2 separate regions of the Homo sapiens genome follow, and region 2 is linked to region 1. A link means that fine-mapping ties the variant in region 1 to the expression of a gene that starts in the linked region. Tissue or cell type: thyroid. Region 1 holds a variant in brackets; the other region holds the start of a gene. All regions are shown on one strand. Distances are between the middles of the regions.

Region 1 (5,300 bases):
TCAAAGAGACTGAAAAAGCAGAAGACCACGGGAAATCCTGCAAGGTTTCTGGCACCTTAGCGACTCACGGATGAAGCCATTGGGCCTTTCCAAAACTGTCATTTTTTGAGAAGACAAGCATGAGACATCCTCTGCCAAGGGGAGGAAAGGGACAGGGACAGATATGGATAATTGGGAAAGTTTGATAAATCTGTAATTTTCTGCCTCATAGGCATAAGATTCTTTTGGGGGTTTACTCACTACATGATACCTGTCACTAGGAAGTTTGTAGATTGCATCTCTGTTGAAAATCCTTTGTGTGTGTGTGTGTGTGTGTGTGTGTGTGTGCGCGCGTAGCTATATATGCAGAGAGCCACACGTCTTAGAATTTGGCCCCCCAGCCTCCTCTTCCCACCACAGAGCAACGTCTGTGGTGCCAATGAGCCCATCAGGCCATGCCTCTGCTTGGCACAACTGCCCTCCACGGGAGTCTGCCTCTTCCTTTTTTTTTTTTCTTATAGATATGTGTTCTTTTCAATAATTGAGATGAAATTGTGTAAACAGATTGGCGTTATGCATGTTTTTTCAGATGACATTATATAGTGAAAATATTCCCCATGTCATAAAGATTACTTGAAATATCATTTGCACAGCTCCAATATTTCATAACATGGATTCACCATTATTTATTTAATCCCTTACCTGTTCTTGAATGCTTGATTGGTTTTAACATTGCTCCATTTTCTTTGGATTTTTAAACAATGCCTTTTCCTGGGTGATGATAGCCATTGCAAAAGCTGGTTTCATAATTGTTGGATGTTTTTCATTCTTGGATCCTGGATATCAAATAAAATCTTTAGAGATAATATCTGAGCCTGCTATGGTTTACTGTCTTTTAAAACTTTACCCTTATTTGGGGATTAAATAATGTGTGTGTTCTATCACAGACACCTATTCTAAAATTGTCTATCAGTAAGATGGACTGCATTGCCTTTTCCTTTTCCATAGAGTATTGAATTTAATTGGGTTATAATTCCTGCTATCTAGTAGCTCACCAACAATGGAGCTGTCAGAGCTTACTCATATACTCCATGGGAAGTTTATGTGTCTGAGGCAAATGCTGGCAGGTGAAGCAGGCATTCCATGAAACCAGGCCTGGGTGGAAAGGAGGCACTCTTGTGTGCAGAGTCTGGTGCCGCTGGGCCCACACACCTGGGAGCACTCCCTGGCTGCCCACACCCTGTTCCTTTCAAGAATTTGGGTTGTGTTTTCTTCTTTCTTGACAATTAGTATAAGGGCAGTAGCTAAGAGTTTGGATTTATTTTTTTTTTGATGGAGTTTTGCTCTTGTTGCCCAGGCTGGATGGAGCATGATCTTGGCTCACTGCAACCTCCACCTCCTGGGTTCAAGCAATTCTCCTGCCTCAGCCTCCCGAGTAGCTGGGATAACAGGCATGTGCCACCACGCCTGGCTAATTTTGTATTTTTAGTGGAGACGAGGTTTCACTATGTTGGCCAGGATGGTCTCGAACTCCTGACTTCAGGTGATCCACCCACTTCGGCCTTCCAAAGTGCTCGGATTACAGGCATGAGCCACCATACCCGGCCAAAAGTTTGAATTTTGATTCAGTCATGACTTTGCCACTTAATCTGAGTCTCCAGGTAGGTCATGTCCCGCAATTTTCTCATCTGCAGGCTGGGAATAATGACAGGCTATATTCCAATAAGTTTTCATTGAAGGTTAAATAATATGACAGAGATCTGGCATATGTAAATCCTCAATAAGTGGCAGCCATTTTTGTTTTTATTGCTTTCGTTATTCATTGAGTTTCAGATACTGAAATTAACAATGCGTATTATCCACCTGTTCCTCTGCTGCTTGGATTCCAGACCAAATTTGCCACCTTTTTTGTAACTTCTAAGATTCACTTTGTACTCTTCTGTTTTTTTTTATTTACTCAATAAGTATTTATTGTGAATCTACTGTGTGCTAGTCACCAGTTTAATAATACTCTGTTCCCATCTCTTTGCCTAGTGCACATATATAAGGAATTCTATGAAACTATAACCATACTGACAGATTTCTTGTATAGTCCAGATGATGATCCCACCATTTTAAAAGTACACTTCAAAATGCTCAAAGAGTAAGCTTCAAATGTCTCACCACAGAAAATAAGTGACATTATGAATACGTAAATTGACTTGATTTAACATTCCACATCATGTACATATATCAGAACTTCACTTTGTACCCAATACATGTGTACAATGATGATTTTTCAATTAAAAATAATATTAATGAAAAAGTTGCATGACAGTGGAAAAAATGTTTTGAAGGATAGAGGTTTGCTTATGATCACATGATTCTGAGCAAATTAATCTGAAGCTTTTTTCACAATATAACTTTATTATGTAGAGTTGTTATAGAAATTAAACAACAATATAGAAATCAAAACAATTTTGTTAGTTCCTTTCTTTTACTCCTCAGATCAGTATGGTTAGGGTGTTTGCAAACTCTGTGTACATTGTGCTGTGGGTTAGCCACTTTAGAAACAGAGGGAGACAGTGAGGCCGGTGGAGCTTGGGAGAGCTAAATAGAGTCTGAGATGGAGAGATTGCATACACCAGTGTGTATTTGAAATAAAATGTAGTGAAAATTAATAAGCTTGAAATTACCTAGCTTAGGCTATTAAACAAAACATTTTAATAAAGAAAACTAAGTCATTTAGGTTTCCAGAGAATAGTAACTGTCACTAATAAAATTAATGTTTATTTAGGAAAAACTTGTATCAGTTTCTGCAATTGAATCAATCAACATCCAATGAGGAAACAGAAACCACATAGTAATTTGGAAAGGAAAATCAATATAAATAATATTAAATGTTATATGGGGTTAACAATAAAGGGGTACCTGAAGAAAATATTTGGGCTCTGGGAGAGTCCCCAAGGAAGAAACAAACTTGAAAAGGGGCCCCACTCCCCAAGACTGGGCCTCTGACTCATTGGAGGTGTGGTTGCAGCTCACCAGCTTGAGAGGAGGTTCTCTGGGTTGCCCCGGGCAGAAGCTGGTAGGAGGTGACATGGGGCTGGAACAGGCCAGCTGGGAGCTCCTTCTGGGGTGCAGGTGGGCACACAAGCACCACGTAAGGAGGGCACGCAGGAGCACCCTCCAGGGAACAGGCAGGCTGAGGATGAGGAAGGATGAATGTCAAAGCAAGGCAGCTTTGGGTCTAACTCTGAGCTCAGAACTGTGGCCAAGGTTTGTTTTCTGGGTCAGTTCTGGATGAATAGCTTCATGGGATCCTGC[C/CA]ACATATCAAATTTAGCTACCCAACCATCTGAAATGAAACAGTAGAGGAAAAACAGGATAATGAAAATTCTTATTTAGCAATGTATAAAGAACATGCAACTTAGCTCAGCATGTGTATCATGCTTTATTTGGGCCAGGGATCGCTAAGAATATTCATTTTTAAACTTATTTTTTTGGCAGAGAAATGTTTCTGGCTCAGCAAATATAATTACAATAAGGTTTGAATTCCTGTTTGCCAGGATTGGAAAACGATACAATTTCTAAAGCTCTAATCAGTTGTCTATCCATTTTATCTCGGGAACAGAGCTCTATTAGCTATTCTATTAGTTAGCTATTCTCACAAATATGCTGCATAACAAACCACCCCCAAACTCAATGGCTTATGGCAACAACCATTGATTTCTTGCTCGCACATCAGCAGGTTGCTTGGAGTTAAGCTGATTAAGTCAGGGCTGGGCTTGGCTCCAGGCTGCAGGTGGGTTTCAAGTCAGCTTCATGTAGCTGTTCCCGTGCCGTGCTGCTTAGCATGTGCTCTCCTTGGGGCAATGGCAGAAGCACAAGGGACAGGCATTTCATGAGCATTTCAAGCCCCTGCTTGGGTGAAGTCTGTTAATGCTCATTGGCCAACATCAATGGGGAGAGAAGTATGCTTCTGTCATGGAGGTTAAAGAGAATAGAGTGAATCTTTGATAGACCATAATCCAATCTCCCACAGCAAGGAGAGTATACAAACCACATCTTAAGTCTGGATCGGCCTGGGATTTTTCTGCCCCTTGACAGCAGCAGCTGCCTTGCCCTTTGCCCAAGGGAGTCCACTCTGCTGCTTCCTGAGTGTCCTCATTCCTGGTCACTGCACGATTGTCCTTAAATGGTGTTAGCTATTTGGACATGGGCTAAATGCTACTCCCCATGCATGTTTGCTCACCTGTTCCATTTCTGTGTCTAGGCAGGTTGGCTGAGCCTGTGGCTTCTCTCTAGAGCTTCCACTGCATCTTACTGAATTTCTTAGGAAGTAGTTGACACAATTGACTACACTGATTTCTGCAAGGTCCCCTAAATCATTTCAGAATGCATGGGGATTGACTCCCAAGAGACAAAAGGGAAGAACTTAATGCACAGTGCACTAAGCAGCAAAGTAGTTTTGCCTCCTTGAGCCTATTCAAGGTTCTCTGTCACACCTTGAATCAGCCAAGATCAAATTTTAGTGTTCGTCACTTGTAAATGTAGTAGACACAAAACCTGGAATTGTGTCTTTATTTGGAAATAGGGTCTTTGTAGATGTAATGAAGTTAAGATGAAGTCATATCGGATTAGGGTGGGCCCCAAATGAAATGATTGGTGTCCTTACAAGGAGAGGGAGATTTGGAGACACAGAAAGACAGAGAGACACGGAGAGGGTGGAAGGCCATGCAGTGATGAAGGGAGAGATTGGAGTGATGCAGCTGCGAGCCGAGAATTGCTGGCAACCACCTGAAGCCAGGAAGACGCAGGAAGGATTCCCCGCTGGAGCCTTCAGGGGGAGCATGGCCCTGCTGTCACCTGACTTCAGGCTTTGATCTTCTGGAATTGTGAGCCAATAAATTTCTGTTTACATGCCACCTAGTTTATGATAATATGTTGTGGCAGCTCTGGGAAAACATAACACAACACCTCCGATGTCTATTTTAGTCAGAATTCTTTGGTTGCAATTAGCAAATACTAAGAAAAAAAGTGGATTGATCTTAGGTCATTTGAAACTGGCTTTAATGTGTGAAGTTAGGAACATGGGTGCTGTTGGGACTCTCTTATCTTTCATTTATGATTCTCTCTTGTGCTGGCTTTATTCTCCCAGGTCAGCTTCTTCATAAGGCTGATGCCATAGCAGCTGAAGTGTTGAGGCTTTTTGATGAGAGAAAAAAGGCTTTTCTGTGTAATTCTAAGATTAAGTCCCAGGTAAGGGTTCTAGTTCGCCCCTGCTCATCTGGATGGACCACTGAGGTTTGGTGGACAGGCTGTATTGGTGGTCCACCTAGCAT
Region 2 (5,300 bases), 220 kb before region 1:
TCTCTTCCCAAAATTTATTCCATTAATAATAAATTTTTACTAGAAATTTTATAAATGCTCACTTCAGAAATCAAAGGTAAGAAAAAGGAACAAAAAACTTTAAAATACAAATGCTCAGAAGTTACAAATTTTATCCTATTTTGTGCATAGTATTGCCTAACACCAGACCATAGTATGTTTGTGTGTATGTGCAAGCAAACTGATTTGTTTTTCCTCACTGGCTGTAACAAAATGCATCTTCACATATCAACATACTTCTCCACCTATTGCCACCTTCAATGGCCACATACCATTCTATGGGTTCTTGTTAACATAAATGCTGGGGAAAAAAAGTGCATGTATCTCTATTTTCTGAAGGTATTTTAATACAATGGAATTGATGGGTAAAGGGCATATACATTTTTAAAATGTGGTAATTATCTCCAAATTATCCACTTGAAAAGTCATCAGCAACTTAAACTTCAAGCAGCAGTGTAAGTGCCACTGCTCTTCATTCTCACAAACACTGTGGATAGAACACAGTCTCACTCCTCTTTTAACTTATCTTATGAGAAACACTAAGGATTTTTTCCTATGTACATAAGTAACTTGTGAATCTGCAAAAAGTGCTTTGCTCACTTCTAGAGTTCTTTTCTTGTGGATTTGATTGGAAAGAATTCCCTGTAAAATAAAGATGTGCTTTTTATCTGTATATATATAACTGATATATATATATAACACATTATATTAGTAATATATACAATTTCTTATACATATAATCAGTAATATGTATTATATATAATAAAGAATAAATTCCCTGTAGGATGAAGATACACTTTTCATCTGAATATATATTTTTATATATTAGTAAAAATATATATAGGAAATATTTTTCGAGTGTGTTATCTTTTGTTAATTTTTTTCTGATACACAGGGGATTTTAATTTTTAGTTTGCTAAATCAACTTTCAGAATGCCTGCTTGCGAGGTCATTCTTACGAAGGCCTTTGTTAACATAAAATGTACCTGTATAAATAAGTCTTTGCGTTTTCTTCTGGTACTTTTTCTCATTTTGCATGTGTAAAAATTTCAGTCTGAATTCCATCAGGAACCCATTTTTGCGACATAAAGTTTCATTAGTTTTCTTCACACAGCAGGCATTTTATTAATAACTCATCTTTTCCTACTCATCTGAAACGTTACCATTATCCATCCCTATGTATATATCTTACATATATTTCAGTGTTTTTGGATTTCCTGTTCTGTTCCATTTATTTATCTGTGTTTTCAGCTGTTAGTAAATAATTAATTGTGGGAATTAATAGCACATTTTGATATCTAGAGGAGCAAGTCTTTTCACTCCATTATAAACATTTTTAAATGTCATCACAATGGTAAGATAGATAGCAAGTGTCATGCAAAAATGATAAAACCTTGATATCTTCATTCAGTTTATGTAAAACTGATAAACATGGAAACAGTTCATATTTTGAGAAAACTGAGTCTTCCCATTCAAGGAACCCACCTCGCGCTTCCCAGTGTCCCTCTAAGAAGCTCCAGTAAAGAACCTGTCTACCTAGGTGGATTCGGATGTAAAACCGACACAGGGTTTTATCTGAGAACTCTTCGCCTACTGAAAAAGGCTCATGGTATTTTTGACAGGGGAATGAGTTCTCATTAGGCACCTCCCTATCATGTATATGGCCCCATGTTTTAAACGTGGATATGCCTAACTTTGTGAGTTAAATCACTCAAATTTTCCACCAAGCGCGACGGACGGGGAATTGCCAGCGACGGAAAGCAGCTGAGGCTCCATTTGGCTCCGCTGCTCCGAGGGTGCCCGGCGCCCTCCAAGGTCCCCGCCCCAGGGGCTGCCGGGCTGCAGGGAAGCCGGGCCTGCGGCCCCCTCCCACCGCGGGCTGAGTCCCCGAGCTACCTGTCTTTTCTGTCGCGGGCGTCCAAGTCCCGGAACCTGCGCGTCAGGCAGCGCTCCACCTCCGCGGCGTCGCCCTTGATGGCAGCCCTGTGGATCTTCCGCAGTTCCCAGTCCCGAATGTCGTAACCCGGACCCGCATACTCTTGGTCCATGGAGCTCAGGAGCGCCTGGCCCAGGCGTCTCCCGAAGCTGAAGAGCTTCCTCATGGTGGCGACTTCTCAGACGCCCACCACCCGCTCCTGAGCCGCGGCGGCTCCTCGTGGCCTTTCCACCCCCACTCCGCCCCAAATCCGCGATCTCCCCCGCAACCCGCGATCCCCCCCGCAACCCGCGATCCACCCCCAAATCCAAGATCCACCCCCAAACCCGCAATGTAGCTCAGAATCCGCGATCCAGCCCGGTCCACCACAGCCTTCAGCAGCGACACTCGCAGACTCCGACCTCTCAGACCGAGTGAGCCCAGCTAAGCCGTTAGGCGCGCGCCTGAACCTCAGCGCTCCGAACTCTCAGACCGAGTGAGTCCCCGCGATGCCAGTTAGGCGCGCGCCTACAACTCAGCGCCAGCCGGGACTCCGGAAGCCGCTCCCAAGCCCTCGTGGCCGGCAGGGGGCACCTGCAGCACGGGCGCACGCGTCGCTGGCTTGCGGGTTCTCCTGGGCTCCCGCGGGACGTCCCGGAATCCCAGGAGTGCATCCCTTCCCGCCTGAGGGCCTGCCTGGCCCTGACTCCCGACCCGCTCCTCCTCCGAAGAGAGATCGGGGCCGCTGACAGGGGCCCTCCGCAGCCACCGGGGATGGGACTGGGGGGTCGGTTCCTGTCCCGGTGCAGCCGCCGCCGGGTAGACCGCCTGGCTTGGCCGCAGCCAGGGCGACATGTAGCCCCGGTTCTGCCAGGCTGGGAGCGCCAGCCATCTTGGGAGTTGCCAGGCAGCTGTCGCCAGCAGGTAGAGGGCGCCTGCAGCTTGGGCGCCCAGGTGGTGGAGCACGGCCTAGGCGGCCTCTGGATCGCGAGTGCACCTGGCCTGAGAGCCCGCCAGGCCCTGCCCCTGCTCGGCTCCTCGTCTGCTGAAGCTCGGGACCTCTAGCCAGTGGCCCTCTGCAGCCACGGGGAATGGGGCTGAGAGCCGGTTCCCGCTGCAGGGCAGACCACCTAGCTCAGCCGCAGCCACAGGGACATCTGGCCCCGGTTCTGAGATGTGGGGAGTGCTGGCGGGCTCGGGGGTTGCCTGGAGGCTGCTGCCTGCACACAGAAGGCGGATGCAGCTTGGGTGCCCAGGCGGGCTGGAGGTGCATGGCCTGGTCGGCCTCGGGATCGCCAGCGCGCCCAGCCTGAGGGCCCCCAGGCCGTGCCTCCCGCCCATTCCTCCACCGGAGGGGGATCGGGGTCGCTGGCATGGGCACTTGGCAGTCACTCCGGATGGGGTTGAGCAGGGGTTCTCAGTTTTCGCCCCTGTGCAGCCGCCGCCGGGCAGAATGCCTGGCTTGGCCGCAGCCACTGCTACACCTAGCGGGTCGGGCGGGCCGGGGGGTGAAAGCGCTGGGAGGCGGGTGCCTTCTCGCCCTGTGGCGCCTCTGGGCCCCACGGCTTGTCGGCCTCCGGCGCGCAGGGCTCCCCAGCATCCTGGGCGCCGGCCCGCTGCCTGCACAAAGTCAACTCAGACAGGATGAACTTCGGTTGCCTTGTCTGGCTGGGCTGCCAGGCGGGGCAGCTGACCTGCTGATGGGGTGACTTTCTTCATCTTCTTGCCCACAGGACAGCGGGCTGGGAAGCCAGGGGCCGCCGGGACCTGGGGCTGGAAACCACATCTGCCCACAGCCGCAGCCTCCTGCACCTGTCATCCTGGCGGCGCCCTGACGTCGGAGAAGCAGCAGGCGCGGAGCTCCTGCAGCGGGCACCGCTGCAGCAACCCGACCCGGCGCAGGCGGCAGTGGAAGGCGGCCTGCTAGCACGGCTCCCGCGGCCCCAGGACCAGGGGTGCGGCCAGCACCGCCCTCACTCCCCGCGTCTCGTGGATATTGCCCTCCCTGGAGGCGGCTGGACCTAAGCGAGGCTCGCAGCGATCGGCCCCGCGAAGACTCGCATGCAGGGCTCAGGATCCCGCATTCTGGCGCCGCGGCACCGCACCTTTCAGCAGCCCTGCTCCTCTTCTTGTTGGTAAACTTTTGTCACTCTGCCATGAAAAGCATCCAGGCGTCCTTGATTTCGACATTGCGTGCACGCTCAGCCGAGCTCATCAGACGGGCGGTTGTCCCCAGAGCCCGCGGGTAGCTTGTTCCCGGGCGGCGGCTCCTGCTGGATGCAGCTCCTTGTGGGCCTACCAGGCTTGGTGGAGCCACAGCAGACCTGTGGAGAGGAAGAGTAAGGCGGGCTCTGCAGGGCAGTGGGCCGGGACCATGAGAGAGGCGGGTCAGTCTGGGCTCCAAGCTCAGCCTCTCGGATTCCCCGGGACCCACGGCTTATAATGCGCTTAAATCCCACGCCTCGCCCGAGAGACAGCACGTCACCGTCACCGTCACCGCCTAGCGCCCCTGACCCGCTCCCACTCCGCTGCAGCGGAGGGTGTGTGAGGGAGAGGGACGCAGGGAGGGAAAAGCGTTGGGAGGGCAAACATCTTTTCATAAGCTTTTCCCCTTCTATATGCCATCTCTGATGGGAGCCTCTTTAGATCTTTCGTCCATTTACTAATTGGGTTGTTCGATTTCTTATTGTTGAGTTGTAAGTGGTTTTTAATGGTCTGGATGCCAGACAGGTGTTTTGCAAATATTTTCTCCGTCTGTGGCTTGTTTCTCCATTCTCTTATTTCCTTTCCCAGAGCAAAAGTTTTTAATTGTAACGACTTCATACCAATATCTTCTTTCATGGTAGAAATTTGTCTTTTATGTACTTTACTGTTGTATCTACAAAGTAATTGCCAAACCCAAAGTTACCTAAATATCCCTTTTGTTATTTTACAGAAGTTTTACAGCTTTTGGATTTAAATTTAGGTCTAAAAATTGAATTCATAAAAGTAGAGAGTATAATGATGCTTACCAGAGGCTGTGTTGCTGGGGAGAAAAATGGGAAGTTGTTCACAGATGCAAAGATTCAGTTAAACCGGAGAAATGCGTTTTGAAATCTATTGCACAGCAGGATGACTATAGTCAATAATAATGTACTGTATATTTAAATAACAAAAAGTAAATTTCAAATATCTAACCACAAAAAATAAAATTGAGGTGATGGGTATTTTTTATTTTATTTATTTATTTGTTTATTTATTTATTTTTTTGAGACAGAGTCTCGCTCTTTCGCCCAGGCCGGACTGCAGTGGCAGGGTCTCGGCTCACTGCAAGCTCCGCCTCCTGGGTTCACGCCATGAGGTGATGGATATTTTATCCTCGATGTAG

The links. PIP is the estimated chance that this variant, and not a neighbour inherited with it, causes the effect.
Region 2: FAM201A starts here. The variant in region 1 is fine-mapped to the expression of FAM201A in thyroid (GTEx, PIP 0.90).

Annotation. Positions count from the first base shown.
Region 1 is chr9:38,837,396-38,842,695 of GRCh38, forward strand. No RefSeq gene overlaps it. Among named protein-coding and RNA genes, the nearest start is that of FAM240B, 120 kb to the left of the region's middle. The variant C/CA (reference allele first, on the strand shown) is at 3,286.
Region 2 is chr9:38,618,166-38,623,465 of GRCh38, forward strand. FAM201A (family with sequence similarity 201 member A) reads left to right here and starts at 2,923. Exons shown (of 2, transcript NR_027294.1): 1 at 2,923-3,200; 2 at 3,667-5,119. ANKRD18A (ankyrin repeat domain 18A) reads right to left here and starts at 2,431. Exons shown (of 16, transcript NM_147195.4): 1 at 1,915-2,431. The coding sequence starts at 2,120. RefSeq lists enhancers at 3,077-3,196, 3,849-4,058.